Regions from separate parts of the Homo sapiens genome. Here region 1 is linked to region 2. The links come from fine-mapping of genetic effects on plasma protein levels. A gene starts in region 2. The other region holds a variant in brackets. All regions are shown on one strand. Distances are between the middles of the regions.

Region 1 (10,177 bases), 100 kb before region 2:
CCCTTGGCACATGGCCTGGTAATAATAGGGTCTCAAGTAATAAATTGAATCAACATAAATGGAGAGAGTCAAACCTGAATAATAATGATTTAGGCTTAGTAGGAGAAATATTTTTAAATGCATGGCTTGAATTTTTGTTTTGTATTATTTTGCTGCATTTAAGCAAAATAAAATGTAAAAAGTACCAAAATAAATAAAAACAAAGCACAAACAAATATGAATATTCTGTAGCTAAAGGACTCATGATCAGGAAAGAAGTGAAGAGGACAGCTATAAGAATGCTAGTAATAGTTTACACTATAAGGGCAGATGCTTGCTCCAAGATAAAGTATACATGGAGGAAAAATAAACAGTCTGGGATACAACCACATGTCTTTCAGGTGTGGTGAAAAGAATAACCAGAGGGCTTTCCTGCATGCCTCAGTTGTCAGGTTTAAGATAATTATCTCTTTTTGGGATTGAACCTCTGTTGTTAAAATAACTACTTATATTGCTGATTTCAGAATATTTCTTCTCTCCTGAGCTAACTTCTTTCCCCTCCCTCTCTCTCTTTCTTTCTTTCTTTTTTGAGACAGAGTTTTACTCTTGTCACCCAGGCTGGAGTGCAATGGCGCGGTCTCGGCTCACTGCAACCTCTGCCTCCCAGGTTCAAGTGATTCTCCTGACTCAGTCCCCTGAGTAGCTGGGATTACAGGCACCCACCACCATGCCCAGCTACTTTTTGTATTTTCAGTAGAGACGGGGTTTCACCATGTTGGCCAGGCTGGTTTCAAAATCCTGACCTCAGGTGATCCACACATGAGCTAACTTTTTATGCCGATTTCCAGCAATAATGGATGATGTGCATGTCTCAGTAGTGCAGTGCAGTAACTTGTTGCAGTGAAAGGTGAAATACTGAGTGAGGATGGAAATACTCCATATGTCTTAAAATTCCACAAAGCCAGGCATATGGGAGACATTCAACATGGAAACTCAACATGACTAATTTTCACAAAACACTCTGAAATTGATATTTTATCCACTGCCTGGACATACTGCAGAATGCGTCCCCTTGGGACTCTAACGGAGCCATCTGGAATTTTTCAGATTTAATATCAGGGCTTTGCTTTTGCACAAAGCCAGCAAAGACCTTGCTTCACAAGCTCTCCACTTGAGACATTTAGTTGTCCTTTGGCATGAATTTTACTTTGTTCCTGTAGCTCTGTGACAAATTAATTGCAAACAATCCAAGACACGTTTTCACTTACTTCTCATCAGCAAACACCAGGAGGAAAGATATTTCCTTGTGGCTGATTCTAGTATGACCTAAGCACCTGAAGAAATTAGCTCATCTTACTTAAAATATAGGTTCTCTTTTAGATTCAGCTTCTAATTTCATTTCACCTCTCATTCAATACTCCCCTCCCCAACTTTATTTTTAATAATAATGGAGGCAGAATATGGGTGCCTGTGTTTCTGGGTGCTTTTGATGTCCTTTGGCTCTGAGAGTGTCCACATTATAACCAATTGGAGCTTCAGGCACTTTCAAGTCTCTAGGACTTTTCCTTGCAGCTGGCCTAGGAGCAGGCAAGCTTGTCTTAAGGATGGTTTTACAGTAACATGATGACTTTTTGGGAAGCTCCAGAATGTGTCAGTCTGAATATCAGTGTGATGGAACTGAGATTAATTCAATTCAACACATTTTAATTAAGGGCTCATCTGTTCTAAATAAGATACAGCCTTAGTTTTCAAGGGGGTTACAACCCAGTGAGAAAGGCTGGTATGTGGATGATAAAAAATAAGGGAATCCAGTGGGAGGATAAATCAACCCTACCCAGGGAGGCCAAATGGTGCTTCTCAGGCAGTGTTGACTAGGGATTGTGGCAGGTTTCCGCTCACCACCCCCATGTCCATCTCCCAGAAGCCAATTTTCTTTCCACCAAATCTTGGGACTCTGTAGTTTTCATGAAAAAGTCTACTTTAAGAGATTTGCACAGTTGAAATAAATTGATACTTTGCCACTCATTGAGGTTCAAGGCCTTTTCTCCTTTACCACTGTGTCTTTATTCTTTACTGTTCACTCACATAATAAACAGTAATCTTACTAACCAGTAGATAAAGTCATATCAAGCATCCCAAAGTAGCTAAAAATTATTTTCAACCATTTTTGTATTGACTGAATGATTCTTGTCCTGAGGTTTATCTTCATGTCTCATAAATATTAGTTATAGTAATTGGCAGCTCTATTGCCAAACTCCTGAGTTTATCTTTGGCCATTTCCCTGCTATGGATTTGAGTGAGCCAATCATTCAGAGAAGAGGACTCCTTCAAAATAGGGGAAGTATGTGATGTCTTGTCTTTCCCTTCGAAATTTCAACAACTCTGAATATAATGTTATATGTCTCTCTCTTTCTCCTCAGAAAAGAATAAGTGTGAGTCAAAGCCGTAGTCTTCAAGCTGGAGGTGAATTCATCTCCAAACTTAGGTCTATACTACTCAAAGTATTTCAACTAGTAGTCAACTGGGGGGAAGCAAGCCTTTTAGGGTTGATATGATTTTTCATTTGAGATCTGATTATCATAATTAAAGCAGAACTCACATATAGTTTGCAAAAGTTGTTGATAAAGTTCTGAGGAACCTCAGTGATTGCCTTCTGGCCTCATGCTGTTTCTCCCGGGTTCTGAGACATAATGCAGCGAATAGAGGGTCAGCTCACTCAAACATTAAATTCCATGAAGAGTGAAAACAAAAACTGGTAATGATAAGGGTGCATGCTATTTCTTTTACCTCTGTCTCAATTTATACTGTTCAAGTAGATCTCTTTGTATCTACAGACACCCAATCTAATGCTTTTTTTATATCCCTGGCTGGAGCCATGTCCTTGGGCAATACACATCACAGGATTTCATCTATACTACATTTCTATGAGTTCTCTTTTTTTGTGTGGTAAATCTAGACTTAGCTAAGTTTGTTGCAGTCCTAGGACACCATGCATAGACTGATATTTTAGTAACCTGTAACATCCAACCAATCCAGGTAAGAGTTGGGAATTGTTGATTGAAATATACCATGCAATCAACACATTAATTACACTGTCTACTATATTGACTTTCCATTTAATTCAATTTGAGGGTAAAATTACTATGAAATTATTCTTGATTATCATTATAATTATCATATAAAATATTGATCATGCTTATTATTTCCTTTTAGGTCACCAGTCTCTTCAGAAGATCATGGTAAGAATCATCTGTCTTATTTATACCAATTCAGGATTGAAACTTGACCCCTGGTCTTTGCAGTTCATTGTCAGAGCAAATAATTGTTTAAGCAAATGTCTCTAAGATATTGGCTTTGTGGTTTTTGAATGTGAAATGTCAAACACTTTTAAAAACTTAAATCACCCTAGCTGAATTTGATATCTTTCAAATCTGTTCCAACCCGTCTGGTTGACGAATATTGTGAAGCCTTAATTTATTCTGCCTGA[T/C]TTCAGTCCCATCAGCAGAAACTTTTTGTGGTTTTGTGGTTTTGGACTAGTCCTGTGCTTTTTATGACTCAGATTTTTATCCTTAAAATGATAAAAATTTTTGTGGTAGTTTGTGGTAGATATTCCCTACAGTCCCTTCCAGAATGGACATTGGGATCATGTTCCAATCACTCATTTGTGAAGAGCACTCTAAATCTGAAAGGAAGGCAAGCAGTCAGTGGTATTTGTTGTTACCCAGTTGAGATGAATTGTTTGCATTTTAAGAGACAGCTAATTCACTCAAAAGAGAAAATATCTCATTTTGTTCCATCTCACCTTTGGAGTTGTTCATTTATCCAATCAGTCACAAAAGTGTTAAGTGTCTACAATGATCAGTTATGCTATGTAGTTATGTTTTACAAATATGCTATATGGAACTTTGGTTTGGGGCCCCTTTGTATCTTACTTGGACTTTGGAAATTCTCTCATAATTGGTATCCATACCTCTATATTTCTTTTCCCTAGTACACTGTATACCGGGCTAGCACCAAAATGATCGTTCCATAGTAAAAATCTGCTCCGATGGCCTCTAGAATGAAATCTTTCCAGCCGACCAATAATTGTGTTCAGCTTTTCAATATTGTATTTTAGCATGGACTAGTAAGCACTAAATGATGGAATCTTTGTCTTCCTCCACTGCTTATTGCTTCATTTACCATCTTTTCCCTTCTCCTACCCATGATCTGTTTTCCAGCCATGTGACAATACATCTAATTCTACATCAAATTTCTGGAGCTCACCATCTTTTCTGCCATCTCCCTGCTTTTCTCCATACTGTTCTCTCTGACAGGATGCTACTTCTTTTGCCATATAGATGGTTTCTATGCACCTCACCTCATCCTCTGTAAGGGCTTGCTGATCTGCTTATCGTTGTGCCTAATATTTTTCTACATTCTAGGGCTTAATGCGCAAATTTCATGCTTTATTTACCTGTTTTCCCTATTAGACTATGAGTTCTTTGATATAGTTTCCAACGAAGAGCAAACAAGGAAAAAGTGTTTATTAAATGAATGAATTAAGAAAAGGGAGAAGGAGTTTTAGGCTGGCCTCTTCTACTGCCACATTGTGAAATCTGACTTAGTACTGGAATGAAGTTGTGTTATTCTCTATGAAGAATCATAGGGAAAATTATGTTCAGGCCCATTAAGTCAGGATCAGGCAATTGACCACCTAATGGTAACCTGCTATTATGTGCTATTTTGCTGATTGCTGTTGGTATTACTAGGTGTTTGCCCATTTATATAGGCCCTTGGGCTTCCATGTTCACATTATAAACTAGAAGCTTGTGTTTGGTTTTTATTTTGAACTAGGATTCCCTTTAATGACTTTTGGTTGTCTTTGCCTTCCTGTCTATGAGAATTTATTCCTCATTCAGACAAAAATGGTGGGTGAGGGAAACTTGTGAATTATAATTTGATAATCCACTAGGACTTCTTAAGTGGTTATGAAATAATAGGGGGCATATGTCAGGGTCCTTTGAAGTCCTAAAGGGTGACTACTGACAGAAAGACTTGCTTGGAAGATTAAGAGCACTTCAGAATTGATTATTTTAAGAACCTTATATGTGATTAGTTGAAGAAACATTATTGAAATTAGAGGGCCATTATAATTTCATGGCTTCAAAAAATTTCTTACATGTTCATACCTCTTAGTTTGTTTCTGTGACTTCCAAAAATAGTTCAAGTACATAATGCAAAATTATAGTGATGATTTACCTAATCCTATGTAATTGTTCATCATTTTCTAGCCCATATATTCTTGAAAAAAAGCTTTTTTCTTTATTACCAGAATTTTCTATCCACCACTCAAAATATATTTCCTTCTTTTTATACATTTTTAAGAGCTCATGTGTACTATGGCTAGTATAAAACCTCTTGAATGTTATAGCATCAATCTTACATATTATTTGTACACAATAATGGCATTGCAACACACTTGTAGGAGAGGTGAGAAGTAGCAATTTGTCTTTCTCAAATTTATTGGTAGAAAATTTAAGGCATGTTGGACACATGGATTGTGAAATTGGAATATAAAACCTTACGTCTCTTGATTTTCTATTTTGTTTGCTTTCCTCAAATAGTCCTCCCTCTGTAATAACTAGTCACTTTGGCTCTAAGACAAGAACTTATTCTTGGAAAAATCTAATTTTGCAACGTCCAATAACCCTGGTATTTTTCATTCCCATGGTACTCTTGCATAGAGAGCTTAAATACAGTGGCTTTGTCCTTTACCTTATCTTGTTTGTTTTCTTTTCCTTGTCTGTAAAATGGAGCTAATCATAAACTGCGTACCTCATGGGATTGTAGCAAGTTCAATTGAGAAATCATTTGTGAAATCACTTTCTGATTTTTTTTTTTTTTTTTTTTTTTGAGACGGAGTCTCACTCTGTCGCCCAGGCTGGAGTGCAGTGGCACGATCTCGGCTCACTGCAAGCTCTGCTTCCCGGGTTCACACCATTCTCCTGCCTCAGCCTCCCAAGTAGCTGGGACTACAGGCGGCCGCCACCATGCCCGGCTAATTTTTTGTATTTTTTAGTAGAGACGGGGTTTCACCGTGTTAGCCAGGATGGTCTCGATCTCCTGACCTCTCGATTCGCCCACCTCGGCCTCCCAAAGTACTGGGATTACAGGCATGAGCCACCGTGCCCGGCCCACTTTCTGATTTGTTAAAAGCACCCCAAACATAGTATTATTCGCTAGCATCCAGGCAGTAGAAGAGGAAGCACAAGTTTATCTGTGATGTTTGCTCGGGATTATGTTCCGCCCTTGAAAAGTTTAAAGAGGACGGGAGAGAATAACCGTTTTTTTCATTATCATTAAATTTTCTCTGGAAACCTTTTATTACATCAGGGTGAGGAGGAGTAAAATGTTTAATACACCATTTAGCTTATAGTGCCAGAGTAAAGGCTCAGTTGATGATTAGATGTGTGGTCATATAGAATTGGCAACACAAGGTCTAAATGACACATAAACTGTTTCTATATTTATATAATAGCGCATCAGGGTCACTAAGAATAAAGGCTAAATTGTATTGAGTGCTTATTATGCAGAAGCACTGTGCTCGCATGCTCCAACTGCCTTATGTCCTTTCATCTTTCACAAATAACACTCTGTAGTCAATGTATCACCCCCAGTTTCACAGCTGCAAAAGCAGGCTCAGAGTGCTTAAATAACTTGCTTAAGGTCACATAGCTAGTAGGTGAGAGAGTTAATTTTCAGACCCAATTCTAACAATCAAACTCTTAACTCTCTTTTATCGGCCATGTCCCTGGAAAACCAAAGACATGATTGAATGGATAGAACTATGGAGATAATTCTTCCCTCCTCTAACAAGAGTATATTTACTACTGTGTAAGTTAATTTCTTTTTAATGACAAAACAGAGCAGAACAAAAATAACAACTTCTCCCTCCTGCTGGTAATGATTTGTCCCTGTAGAAAAAGGAAATACCAATGTCACATTTTCTCATAATTAGTTAACTGAGTGAAACTGAAGTTTCAGGGAAACCTGCCATGCTAAACCCCAGTGGAAACATTAAGTTTTAATGTTACATCTGGAAACTGGAGCCCTACTCCTTGTTAGAAGATAAGCTTGGCAGTGATTGATTGCACTGTCCTCTGCATTTCCTCTGTATTGAATGCCTATCACTTCGTCATTTAAATTGCTCCTGGAGCCATCTCCTGGGCCCAGGCTGCTTCCCTGGCTCTGAGAACTCATCTTCCTTTCTGTCACCTTAGCCTGCTTATTTTACAGGCTCCTTGGAATGCTGCGCTTACCGCTGCTTCACTTACTGCTGCTACCTGTGCCAGCACACTCAGGGCAGGTCATCTTCCAACTAATGTCTGTTCATTTACAAAATAAAAGGCATTAGTGGCTTCTCAAAGAAAGTGCCAGCAATCTGCTGCATGCCCCACTGGAACATCTGAGGCAGGCATCCCTCTCCTGTCCTACCTCTTAGACCTGTTGTCAACTATGGCCGTCACATTCTAGGGCAGCTTTTTTGTTGCAGCAGTAACATAGTGGACATGAATTGCAGTAATGGCTATTTGGAAATAAAATTGTCACAACCACAATCACTAGTGTAAAGTGTTCAATAATGAATCCACTGTCAGGCTTGGAGACGGCTGTACTTGGCAGTAGGTTACTGATATGGTTTGGCTGTGTCCCCACCTAAATCTCACCTTGAATTGTAATAATCCCCATGTGTCAAGGATGGGGCCAGGTAGAGATAATTGAATCATGGAGCAGTTTCCCCCATACTGTTTTCGTGATAGTGAATAAGTCTCATGAGATCTGATGGTTTTGTAAATGGGAGTTCCCCTGCACAAGCTCTCTCTTGCCTGCCACCATGTAAGACATCCCTTTGTTCTTCCTTCGTCTTCCGCCATGATTGTGAGGCCTCCCCAGCCATATGGAACTGTGAGTCCATTAAACCTCTTTCCTTTATAAATTATGCAGTCTTGAGTATGTCTTTATTAGCAACATGAGAATGGATTAATACAGTTATGCAGTGAAACACACTGTGGCGTGGCCCAAACTCTTTGAGGCATCAATGGCTGTACCTCATCAATTCACTTTTCTTTCATGTATATTACTGAAATAGATACTATTCATAAAATATATAAAATGTTATCTGCTCAGTTTAAATAATAAGCAAAACGAACTACTGTGTACTTGGCCCTCAGACTAAGAAGTAAAACATTTGTAGGAATTTGGGAGCTTCATGTCATTTGCTTCCCTAATTATGTCCCCTTCCCTCTCCTTCAGAAATAACTACTATTCTGCCTTTTTGTTAATCATGTCCTTGTTTCTTCTTGTTTTACTACATATATGCATATCTTACATATGAATGGATACGTGGATATATAACTCATATATGTATTCCTATATGTGTGTATATGTGTGTGTGTACATAGTTTTATGTATTTTGAATTTGTACAAATTGAATCATGTTGTTATTTGTTTCTTTTGTTCAAAAGAATAATTTTTGTGATTCATCCTTATGGATGAGTGCCATATGCATTTCATCAATAGTTCATGTTGTATACTACTCTATTGTATGAGTATATACCAATTTATATATCCAATCTGCTAATGAATATTTACATAAATAACAGGTTTCTTGGGGGTTTGTTTTTGTTTTGCTCTTGCAAACAATATTACTATGAACATTCTCTTTTTTGTAACTCTTCCTCGTATCCATGCGCTTAAACCTGGGAATAGCTTAAGTTAGGTGGTAGATTATACACATATTTAACTTATAGCATTATAACATGTTGTTTTCCAGAGTGATCATTTTAATATACACTCCCAACTTCAGTGGATAAGAGTTCCCATTGATCTACATCCTCACCAACACTTGATATTAACTAATTTAAAAATGTTTGCTAGTCTTGTGAAAGTATGAAATGGCATCTCAATGTGATTTTAATTTGTAGTCAATGATTACACATGAGATCAAACATCTTTTCATATACTTATGGGCCATTTGTGTTTACTCTTCTATGAAAGGTCTTTTTATTTCTTTTACTCACTTTTCCCCACCTGGTTGGTTGTGTTCTTCTTAATGATTTATGAACTTTTTAATGTATTCTATGTAAAAATTATTTTGTTTCCTATGTGTGTTGCAAATTTTCTCCAGTTTGTGGCTTATCTGTTCGAGCTCTTTTTGATGTCATCTGATGAATAGATGGATATTCTTTATTTTACTGCAGTAAAATCATTAATGTTTTCTCTATGGTTTATGCCTTTGGTATTTTTTAAAGAAATCTTTCAAAGCATAATCATAAAGATATTGTCTTGTAAAATTTTTAGAATGCTTTCTTTAATATTTGATAACTTGGAATTGATTTTTGTGGTTTGGTAAGAGATAAAGGTCAAATTTAATTTTGATTCTGTTCATATACATAACTAGCTATTTCATTTTCATTCATTTTCTTCACTGACTTACAAAGTCTGTCGTCTCCCTGTAAATGTGAGTCTCTAGGTTCTATTTTCTGTTATATTGATGAATATATCTATCCCTGTGCTATTGTTTTAGTTGTTATAACTTTGGTATGAGTCCAGATATCTGTTGGAGGATATATCCTGTAATTTGTCCTTTGGGAGTGACTTGGTTATAATTGAGTTTTGCCTGTTTCATATAAATTATAAAATTAGCGTATCAAATTTTGTGGTGAAATTTTTTATGAAAATTGCATGAATCTATAAATTTGTATAAAGAAAATTGATATTTCTATGATAATGCATCATTCTATTCCAAGCCACATCTCTTGACATTTAATTGGCTTTTTCAAATGGCTATGAATAGAGTTTTATAATTTCCTTCATGAAGGATTTGGTCATTTTTGTGTTAAATATATTCCTAGGTACTTTATATTTTTAGTGACAATTTGTATGTTGTATTTTTAAAATTATGTTTTCTAAGTAGTCTTTGCTGGCATATTGAAATGCAGTTGAATTTTAAAATCTTGTTTCTTTATCAATATTCCTGCTAAAGTTTTAAATTCATAAATCTTATCTGAAGCGTCTTTTTGTGGGAAGAGAATTCTATATAGGCAATCTCATCTACAAAGAATTTTGTTTCGTCCTTTCCAATCATTATGCTTTGTATACATATTTCTGGTGCTTTCTGCACTGGTTAAAACCTTCAGTGCAGTATTGACTAGTAACA
Region 2 (8,913 bases):
CCCAGCAGTTTGCGAGGCTGAGGTGGGTGGATCACCTGAGGTCGGGAGTTCGAGACCAGCCAAACCAACATGGAGAAACCCCATCTCTACTAAAAATACAAAATTAGCCAGGTGTGGTGGTGCATGCCTGTAATCCCAGCTACTCAGGAGGCTGTAGCAGGAAAATTGCTTGAACCTGGGTGAGCCGAGATCACGCCATTGCACTCCAGCCTGGGCAACAAGAGTGAAACTCCATCTCAGAAGAAAGAAAGAACAACAACATAGGCTATCTGAGAGTAGGGACTGTCAACAGTTTTTCTTCATAGCTCTATCAAGCTAAAGACTTAAGTGCTTAAAGAATATTAGCCTAATGAATGAAATAACTTGGACTCTGGAATCAACAGACCCCTGACTATGCCGTAGGATGAAGTTCGGATTTGAAACTGAGTATTTCACTGTGTATTAAAAAACATTCTACTTCAACTTTGATGAAAATGCTGGATTGAATTAAATTATGACTAATCTCAATCTCATAAATTTCTATTTATTAAAAAAAAAACTCTCTTTAATCCGTCTTTGCATTTTTAAAATACCATGGTGAATAACATTAGGTTTTCTTAACCTCAGCCCTGTTAACATTTTGGGCCAAATAATTCTTTGTTGTGGAGGTGTCAGAGGTGGTTAAACCAGAGCGACTCCATCTTGAATAGGTGCTGGGTAAAATAAGGCTGAGACCTACTGGGCTTCATTCCCAGGAAGTTAGGCATTCTAAGTCACAGGATGAGATAGGAGATTGCCACAAGATACAGGTCATAAGGAACTTGCTGATAAAACAGCTTGTTGTAAAGAAGGCGTCCAAAACCCACCAAAACAAAGATGGCCACGAGAGTGATCTCTGGTCGTCCTCACTGCTCATTACATGCTAATTATAACACATTAGCATGCCAAAAGTCACTCCTACCAGCACAGGACAGTTTACAAATGCCATGGCAGTGTCAGGAAGTTACCATATATGGTCTAAAAAGGGGAAGAACCCTCAGTTCCGGGAGCTGCCAACCCCTTTCCAGGAAAATTCATGAATAACCTACCCCTTGTTTAGCATACAATCAGGAAATGACCAAACAGATGGACAGCCAGAAGCCACTGGGGCTGCTTTGCCTATGGAGTAGCTAGCTATTCTTTATTCCTTTACCTCTCTAATTAACTTGCTTTCACTTTACTCTATGAACTTGCCCTGAATTCTTTCTTGCAACTGAGATCCAAGAACCCTCTCTTGGGGTCTGGACCGGGACCGCTTTCTGGTAACAAAGGCTGTCCTATGCATTGTATGATGTTTTACAGCATCCCCGGCTTCTACCCACTAGATCCAGAGCAACCCCTTCCACCAAGTTGCGACAACCAAGACTACCTCCAGACATTATTCCCTTTTCCTGGAGGGCAAAACTGCTCCCAATTGATAATCACTGATGTATACAATTTTAGTATATACCCATCTGAATAAAGGGTGATATTTTTGGTGTAACATATGTAATTGAGTAGAAATCATGGGAATCTCATGCTTACTTTATCAGCCCTATAGAGAACACCTCAATCAAGCCAGCATTGTTCACCTAACTGGTAGCTAGCTGTATGTTACATTTGTATATGTTAACATAAAGCTGAAGAACAGAAAGAAAATGGATAGCTCTTTGTTCAATGCCTTAGAAACTTTGCCCCTATGGAGTGTTAATAGAATGCTGAGATATCTTTTTTGGTAAAGGGACTGGGAAAAATGCCAAAAAAAAATGCTAATGTGCGTTTCTCCACACTTTATACAGGTGAAATCTGATTAAAACAAGCACTGCTTGCTTCACACAGAAGTGGAATCACAAAAGGAAAACAGGTAACCTGAAGCCTGTGTGTAGGAGAAAGGAACACAGCTTCCTTATTTAGTTATTTCATTTGAGAATTGTATGTGGTATGTATATGAAGAGTTTGGGAAGGGGGATAAATTGTAGGTGTGTAAGTGCATCTCTGATGCCTTTCCTTTTGAAAAGCTTGATTGACTGCTTGATTGAGTTTGTAGAGCCACGTCTGGCTCCAGTCAACTTCTCCAAGGGACATTTCTACAGGTAGCTGTCAATAGAAGAGCCCCAAGTCCCTAAAAACTACTTGCCACAAGACAATGCTTCTAATTTGGGGATTTAAGGATAGTTCTAAGTAAACAAATTGCTTAATAAATATTTGTCAAATTGAAATGAAGGGATGTAACCTCAGAATTATGAAAAATGTGGTCTATTTTACAACCAATTTGGGAAGGACGCCATCAAATGATAAGCTGACCAGTAAAGGTAAAAGTAGGTAAAAGGAGCTAGCCACGGAGCAGGAAAAGCTGATAAGTGGCAGAAAATCTCGAAATTTACATTTCGAAAATGTTTGGGTGAATTTGTATAATACATCTTAATCCTTTTACACAATACTTTTATCTCATCTTTATCATAAATATTTACCTATGCATTGCCTTAGCGTCTTTCCTGTATTGAATGAAATGACAATTCCAGAGACGCAAAGCCCAGCCTCCAAGTTTTACAAACCTCAGAGTTTGAGCTACTTTGACGAATCCTCTAAATTCTTGGGTGTCAAAGGCATGTTACTAAATAGGTTGCTAAAGGCACCAAGGAAACCAAAAAAGGAAAGAGCTCTCCCTAAAGGTAAGTAGCACTTAATTGGGAACTTTGAGACGTCTGTCACTCTTTGTGACAATTGAGAAAAAGTACTTTGTACATTTTGTGCTTTGCAGGTGAGATGTGACTGACACCTTACTGTCTCTGTGTTTAGAGAGGGCTTTCGTGGGTGGAAGAAGAGGCTGGTTTGAAGAGAGTGCTTTTCCATTCTGAATATCATTAAAGGATTGTGGGGGGCCAAAAATGTAACCTAAAATGCCATCAATTGTCCATTTAAAATATCCTATTTGGCAAAGTGGCTTTGCACTCATCTGAAGAATAGATCATGGGTGGAGTTTGGAAAAGAAATGTTGTGTTTCGTCTCTGCTAAAAACAAAACAAGGTACCATCTCATGGCCTCTTGGTTCAAATCCGTTTTCTTGCTCCGCAGGGAGAGACTGCCCCTGGAGTATTCTGCTTTTAATAAGCTTCCCAATCAGCTCTCGAGTGCAAAGCGCTCTCCCTCCCTCGCCCAGCCTTCGTCCTCCTGGCCCGCTCCTCTCATCCCTCCCATTCTCCATTTCCCTTCCGTTCCCTCCCTGTCAGGGCGTAATTGAGTCAAAGGCAGGATCAGGTTCCCCGCCTTCCAGTCCAAAAATCCCGCCAAGAGAGCCCCAGAGCAGAGGAAAATCCAAAGTGGAGAGAGGGGAAGAAAGAGACCAGTGAGTCATCCGTCCAGAAGGCGGGGAGAGCAGCAGCGGCCCAAGCAGGAGCTGCAGCGAGCCGGGTACCTGGACTCAGCGGTAGCAACCTCGCCCCTTGCAACAAAGGCAGACTGAGCGCCAGAGAGGACGTTTCCAACTCAAAGTAAGTGAGAGGAACGTACGATTTCTCGGAGGGCTCTTCGATCGAGTTTGCCTTCACCCTGTGCCACTTTTCTGGGTGCCAGCAGATGATGGTGGTAGGGGTGAGAGAGGCTGCCTGGTGTCTTTGCTGATAGGACTGCTTTCAAAACTGACTTGCTCCAGAGGCCAAGGGAGGCATATTTTTGGGGTTTCAGGTTAGGTTAGTTCGGGTGTGCTTAGGTAAGTGAAAGGAAAGAAGTTTTTGTGATGTTAAGCATGTATTTGGACCGTGTTCCAGCTACCAGCTGGAGAGCAAGACAGGGTGGGCTGGAGAGTGCATCTTTGCTTTTTGTAAAACCTGGAGCTTTAGTAGGTGTGTCTCTGGCTGGGTAGGTGCAAAGAAAGTAAGGCAGCCTGAACAAGCAGCTCTCATTTTCCCAGCCTCTCTCTGATTCTCTGATTGCCCCAGAGCCTGTCAGCCCATGACTCTTAGCTGGCATTTCTAGGTAAGCTGTGGGGGCTTGTTCCTCCCAGTGCTAGCTGACATGAAACGTCTCTCACGGAACTACTGGCACCCGTCTTCCCACCTGACAGCCCAGGAATGGTTCCAGAAATGGTTAGGTCCAAAGTTTAGAAGACACACCTGGAGTCCCATCTCTCATTTGAATGCAAATTTAAAGAACTGCCCAGTACATAGACCCTTAAACTTTTAATTTGACCCACATAAATTTAGGATATATTTGTTACTAATTTACTAGATATTTAGAGTTTCTGAGTTGTTGTTTCTAATAAGTTAAGAAAACATTTTTTGAGAGGAATGTATTCAACTCCTTTCTTAATAGATGGAAAGTGAAACCTCCTCTCTCCTCTCCATACACACACACCCCTTTCTCCATGACATAATGTGACACAACACACACACACACACACACAGGAACACACACATGCAGTTTATATACACTCTAGTGTTAACTCACCCTTGTGTCTGTTAAGAGCTGCTTTGTAAGTTTGGGGACACATTCAGAAAATAGGAGGGGTAGGGGTGCTAAGAGGAGAAAATATTAAAGCTGCGGTCCTTGAGCATCTCTCATTTTAAGAGTTATCAGGCATTTTGCTTTAGCAGCTTGAGAAAGGGGTGATGTGTGTGTGTGCGTGTGCATGTGCGTGTGTGTGTGCTAGAGAGAGGGGTCTGGGAGGAGATTTAGAAATCACCAAAAAGAGCTCTGGACTAATAACATAATGAAACATTTTATGATCCTAGGCAAATGTGGAATTGATGAAACAGCAGGGCCCATTTTAGCCCCTTAATTATCCGGGAATGCATTGATATGTAGAAATATTGAAAGTTAATGACAATGAAACAAAAGAGAAGTCTCCCAACACAGAAAATAAAGCTGTATTTTCCATCTTCATTATGTTTCCTTTTAAGTAAATTATGCACTTTAAAGGCCAAGTCGTTTAAAAAATATAGTCCAGTTAAATTCAGAGGAAATTAGAATGAATATTTTTTTCTTCCTTTGGGACATGAGTTATTTCAGACTGGCAATATTTGTACTTTTTCATTTAAATTAGAAGATGAGATTTTAAAAAATTATATTATTTAAAAAAAACTCTAATGCCATCCTTTTGTGCTTTAAGAAACTTGGGCCTTAAGTTCTCTAATTGTACTTTAAATAAATAGAAGGTGATCTTTTTTCTGCCACTGCTCACTGGTTCCCTTTAGGACATCTTTTTCTGCATTTAGTGAAAAGCCACTATAAGGAACTCCCACCTGAAGCCACATATAACAGCATTAGGTGCTGTGTTCCAGCTGTTTGCTTCTGGATGCAAATGCATTATGTTCTCAAAGCTAGAGCTTGAGATAAATAAAAGTACTATTAGATACATGACTTTTTAATTATCTGACTTTAAATGAGATATTATAGATAATTAGAGTAATAAGGTATACCTAACTATATTTATAGTCTAATGTATTATATGTATTATATATAATTCTCTGTTTTTTTAGACCCCTTTCCATGAGATCATGAGATTTGGTTTAATAAACGTATTAATTTATTGATATTTTCCATATGCCTTATTTGGGCTTCACATATAGCAACACATAACAAGATCTACATTTCTTTTTAATGAGCATTTTCATTTTTTAAAAAAATTTCAGTCAAGCCAATGGCCTGGTTTAAAATTTCATAAAAGCCTAGTTGTTGAAAACAACAGAGAGAAATAAGATCCCCAGATAGTTGAATCACTTTTTTTAGTAAAATCAATCTTAGATATCAAATATTTTAACTTTAAATATTTTATTTTTCCTTTGAAGATATTTTTGCTTTCTCACTTACATGGCATTCTCACATGAATTCTGACCATATTCCTATTTGTCATGTGGTGTTTTTAATTACTATTCAAAAATTTCCCACAAAATCGAGTTTACCCGGCTCGTTGAAAATGGTGTGATAAATTAACAATAGATTGAGGGCCTGAAGTCAGAATTCAGAATACAAATTCCAGTTCTCTAAAGAATTATGCTTTTTAATATGGCGGCATAATGATATGGGGAGTTGTTCTTGACTTCTCTCAGGAAGGAGGTGTCCAGACTGAGACCACCCAATGTGATGAGTGCAAACATCCTCCACACCTGAGTGCACCTCAGCCCAGTTTGAGATGTGCTTTTCTCTGGAGCATGAGGCTGAGTGGGAGCTCTCCAATGGCCTTTGTTCCATAGCTTTGCTAGTGATGTTGAGTTGGGCTTCTCCATAAGGGTGAGGAATGTTTTTAGCTCTGGCTTCTGTTCTAAATGAATAGTCGAAGAGTTTTTGCCTCCTTCTGGCACAAGGTCATGTCACTGCTGTGGGAGGCGAAGTAAGATGATACTCAGATATGAACCTTCTTTTTATGAGCTGGGCTTGCTTTTTTCCATCCAGAGTCAATTGGCTTAAGTGGAATTTGGGCCATGGCCTCGTGGAAAGTTGTTTTTCCTTCTGATGTTTATGGACAATTCAAGTTTCCACCCACTGGGCTATTTTTCCATCCACTTCAAGCCAGTCTAGTGTGCGGCATAGTTTTCATGGTGTCATTACAATATTTCTAGATTGTAAAATATAACAAACCTCTTTTTCTTTCTATTTTGGCATTTAGTAAATAAGAAATTAAAACAGTATCTTAAAAGGGTAGCTATGATGGAACACTATCAGAGGGTATTATAAATATGGGAATATTGTGGACTTAATTATGTAGATCACATTCACCACAAATCTCTATTTCTTCAGGGTGGACAAGGAATACAATGACTCCTTCATGTTTGAGATATTTTTAGGGATAAAATTTAATTCATTTTTCTAGGCTTTATTTATTGAACCATTTTTTCAGAGTGGGTTGAGATAAAGTGATATCTCAAACAGAAAAAAATCATATCCAGTTTTCTAAAAATAGAAGTCTTAGATTTTTTTCAACTTCACACATAGTGTAACAAAAAATCAAGCGCTGTATATTAATCTTGAAAAAAGTGACTCATAGTAACTGATAATTGGGCTCTTAATTCTAAGAATTGCTCTTAGCAAAAGCTAAAACATAATTTTAAAACACAAATAGCATTCTGTCTCTAACCCTTTGCTCCCTTTTCTTCCTGCTTTTACATTTACCTATTTCTCCTTCTTTTCTCTCATTTCTCCATTAATTTGGTTGCCACTATTTCCCACCCAACAGGTCCCAGAACGTCTTGCCCAATTCCCTCTTGCTATGATGGCATACATTTCTCTATGTACGGATGTACCAGGAATGCCTGCCCATATGTTGGCATTCTTGGAAGCTTGGACCTTCCTAGCTGATGTTTTCAACACCAGTGCCCTCTCTACTGATTCAATGGCATTTTTCCCCCATTTTTTTTTTTTTTTTTGATTCAAGACCCTGCCTAAGGGTCAGGCAACATTTTCATCACTGCAATGTTGACCTCATTCTCTTCTCAGTTTCCCAACATCAATGTAGAGGCGCAGCTGGAGTTACTCATGTCCATCACATCGTCTCGGGGTCCTACTCCAACAATACAATTTTTCTTGCTCCTGTGGCCAGCCAATTTAACAATATTTATTGTACGTATGTTGGATGCCTAATACTACATTGTGCTGGACAATGTAGCATGTTTAAGAAATAGAACATGGTGTCTATCTCTATGGTTTCACAATATCTAATACTTTGTGTTTGGTACGTGGTGTGAACTTGTGAAATTCTTTATTAGAAATGTATTTAAAGGAGATCTCAATTAAAATCCATTATACCCTCACCCATCTCTGGAAAAGATGCTTTAAAAGTCACAGATTGCTAATCCCAACATTTTATGATTATCTCATACTGTAACCTCCTTGATATGTTATTGTCTTAATGTTTTCCTAATTTCTTTGGGCACTCCTTTTTTCATGTTTTGTTTTGCTTTTTTTTTTCTTGTCTTCCAAATGTGTACATTTATTTCCAAATATTTCAGTTTCCCGCCTTCCTCTCTCCTCTCCAAATGCTTTAGTATTGTCACAACTCTTCTTTGAGCTTTAACTCCTTCACAAGGAAAATTCTCAGATCTGAAGAGAATTGAAGGAAGATTCTCTCTAATGAGCTCTGGACTCACATTTTTAATATTTTTTCAATGAATACTGAAGGAAATCATTCAGGCACAATTCTATTTGGAGGAGGAGATTGAAGTAAAGGACTTCCTGTTATTTTATTTTTATCCCTACCAGACTTTTACGCATAGTGACTGACATACTATATGGTAGGTAGTGTGATGAGGGAAACAGGACAAATAAATATGTCTTCAAGCAGCTAATGATCTACTCAATATATATGTAAGAACATTAAAACACTAATTACTACAACACAGGTTAGAGGAAGATATGTACAATTGTTGCCCTAAGCAGTTCCAATGACAAAGGGATCACATTTTTATGAGAAAAAGGAAAGTGGAGCTCACAAAAGGCTAAATGGTACGCAACGTCTATTTCAAAAGCATTATGTCTGTTTGTTCCTTTAATGCTGTTTATTCTGGAAGGGAAATTGAACTCCTGATTCCTTCGTGTTTTCATTTCACATTTGCCACATAACGTAGCAGAAACAAATTATTGGAAGTGACAACTTAAGAATTCAGACTGAGTTTATTTAGAATCAATATAATTTTTAAGACATGGCACTCCCTGTAGATGTCCTTTTCAGGAAAATTTATACCAGAAGAGAAGAGTGTCCTTTAATGAAAACATATACATGAAGGGAAAGAAGGCAAATCCTTGTACTTCAGCTGTGGAATTTGGGTGAAATCTTGAGTCGGAAATTGAAGGCACCAAAGGTTTTCCAAGGCAAATGCCCCCTCTAGGTGGAGCTATATTTCTTCCCTTGTCTTCGAAGTCTCCCCATCACCCCTTATAGTGACTTCAGCTCCTCCTTTCTCACCATTTGACACCAGCCCCACC

Direction of the effects. Positions count from the first base shown, and alleles are read on the strand shown. Strength reflects both the effect of a copy and how common the allele is.
With allele C in place of T in region 1, the plasma level of the protein whose gene starts at base 3,194 in region 2 is lower (weak association).

Evidence for each region. PIP is the posterior inclusion probability: the model's chance that the variant is causal. The UK Biobank Pharma Proteomics Project read protein levels with antibody pairs (Olink). The fine-mapping took linkage between variants from a reference panel, not from the people measured, so its PIPs are less certain.
Region 1: its variant is fine-mapped to the plasma level of the PTN protein (UK Biobank, PIP above 0.99).

Annotation. Positions count from the first base shown.
Region 1 is chr7:137,437,118-137,447,294 of GRCh38, reverse strand. DGKI (diacylglycerol kinase iota) reads left to right here. Exons shown (of 33, transcript NM_001321708.2): 28 at 3,193-3,218. Among named protein-coding and RNA genes, the nearest start is that of PTN, 98 kb to the right of the region's middle. RefSeq lists an enhancer at 7,005-7,521. The variant T/C (reference allele first, on the strand shown) is at 3,467.
Region 2 is chr7:137,338,014-137,346,926 of GRCh38, reverse strand. It overlaps PTN (pleiotrophin), which reads left to right and starts at 3,194. Exons shown (of 5, transcript NM_002825.7): 1 at 3,194-3,488. RefSeq lists a cis regulatory region at 2,642-2,651 and promoters at 2,655-3,400, 1,236-3,400.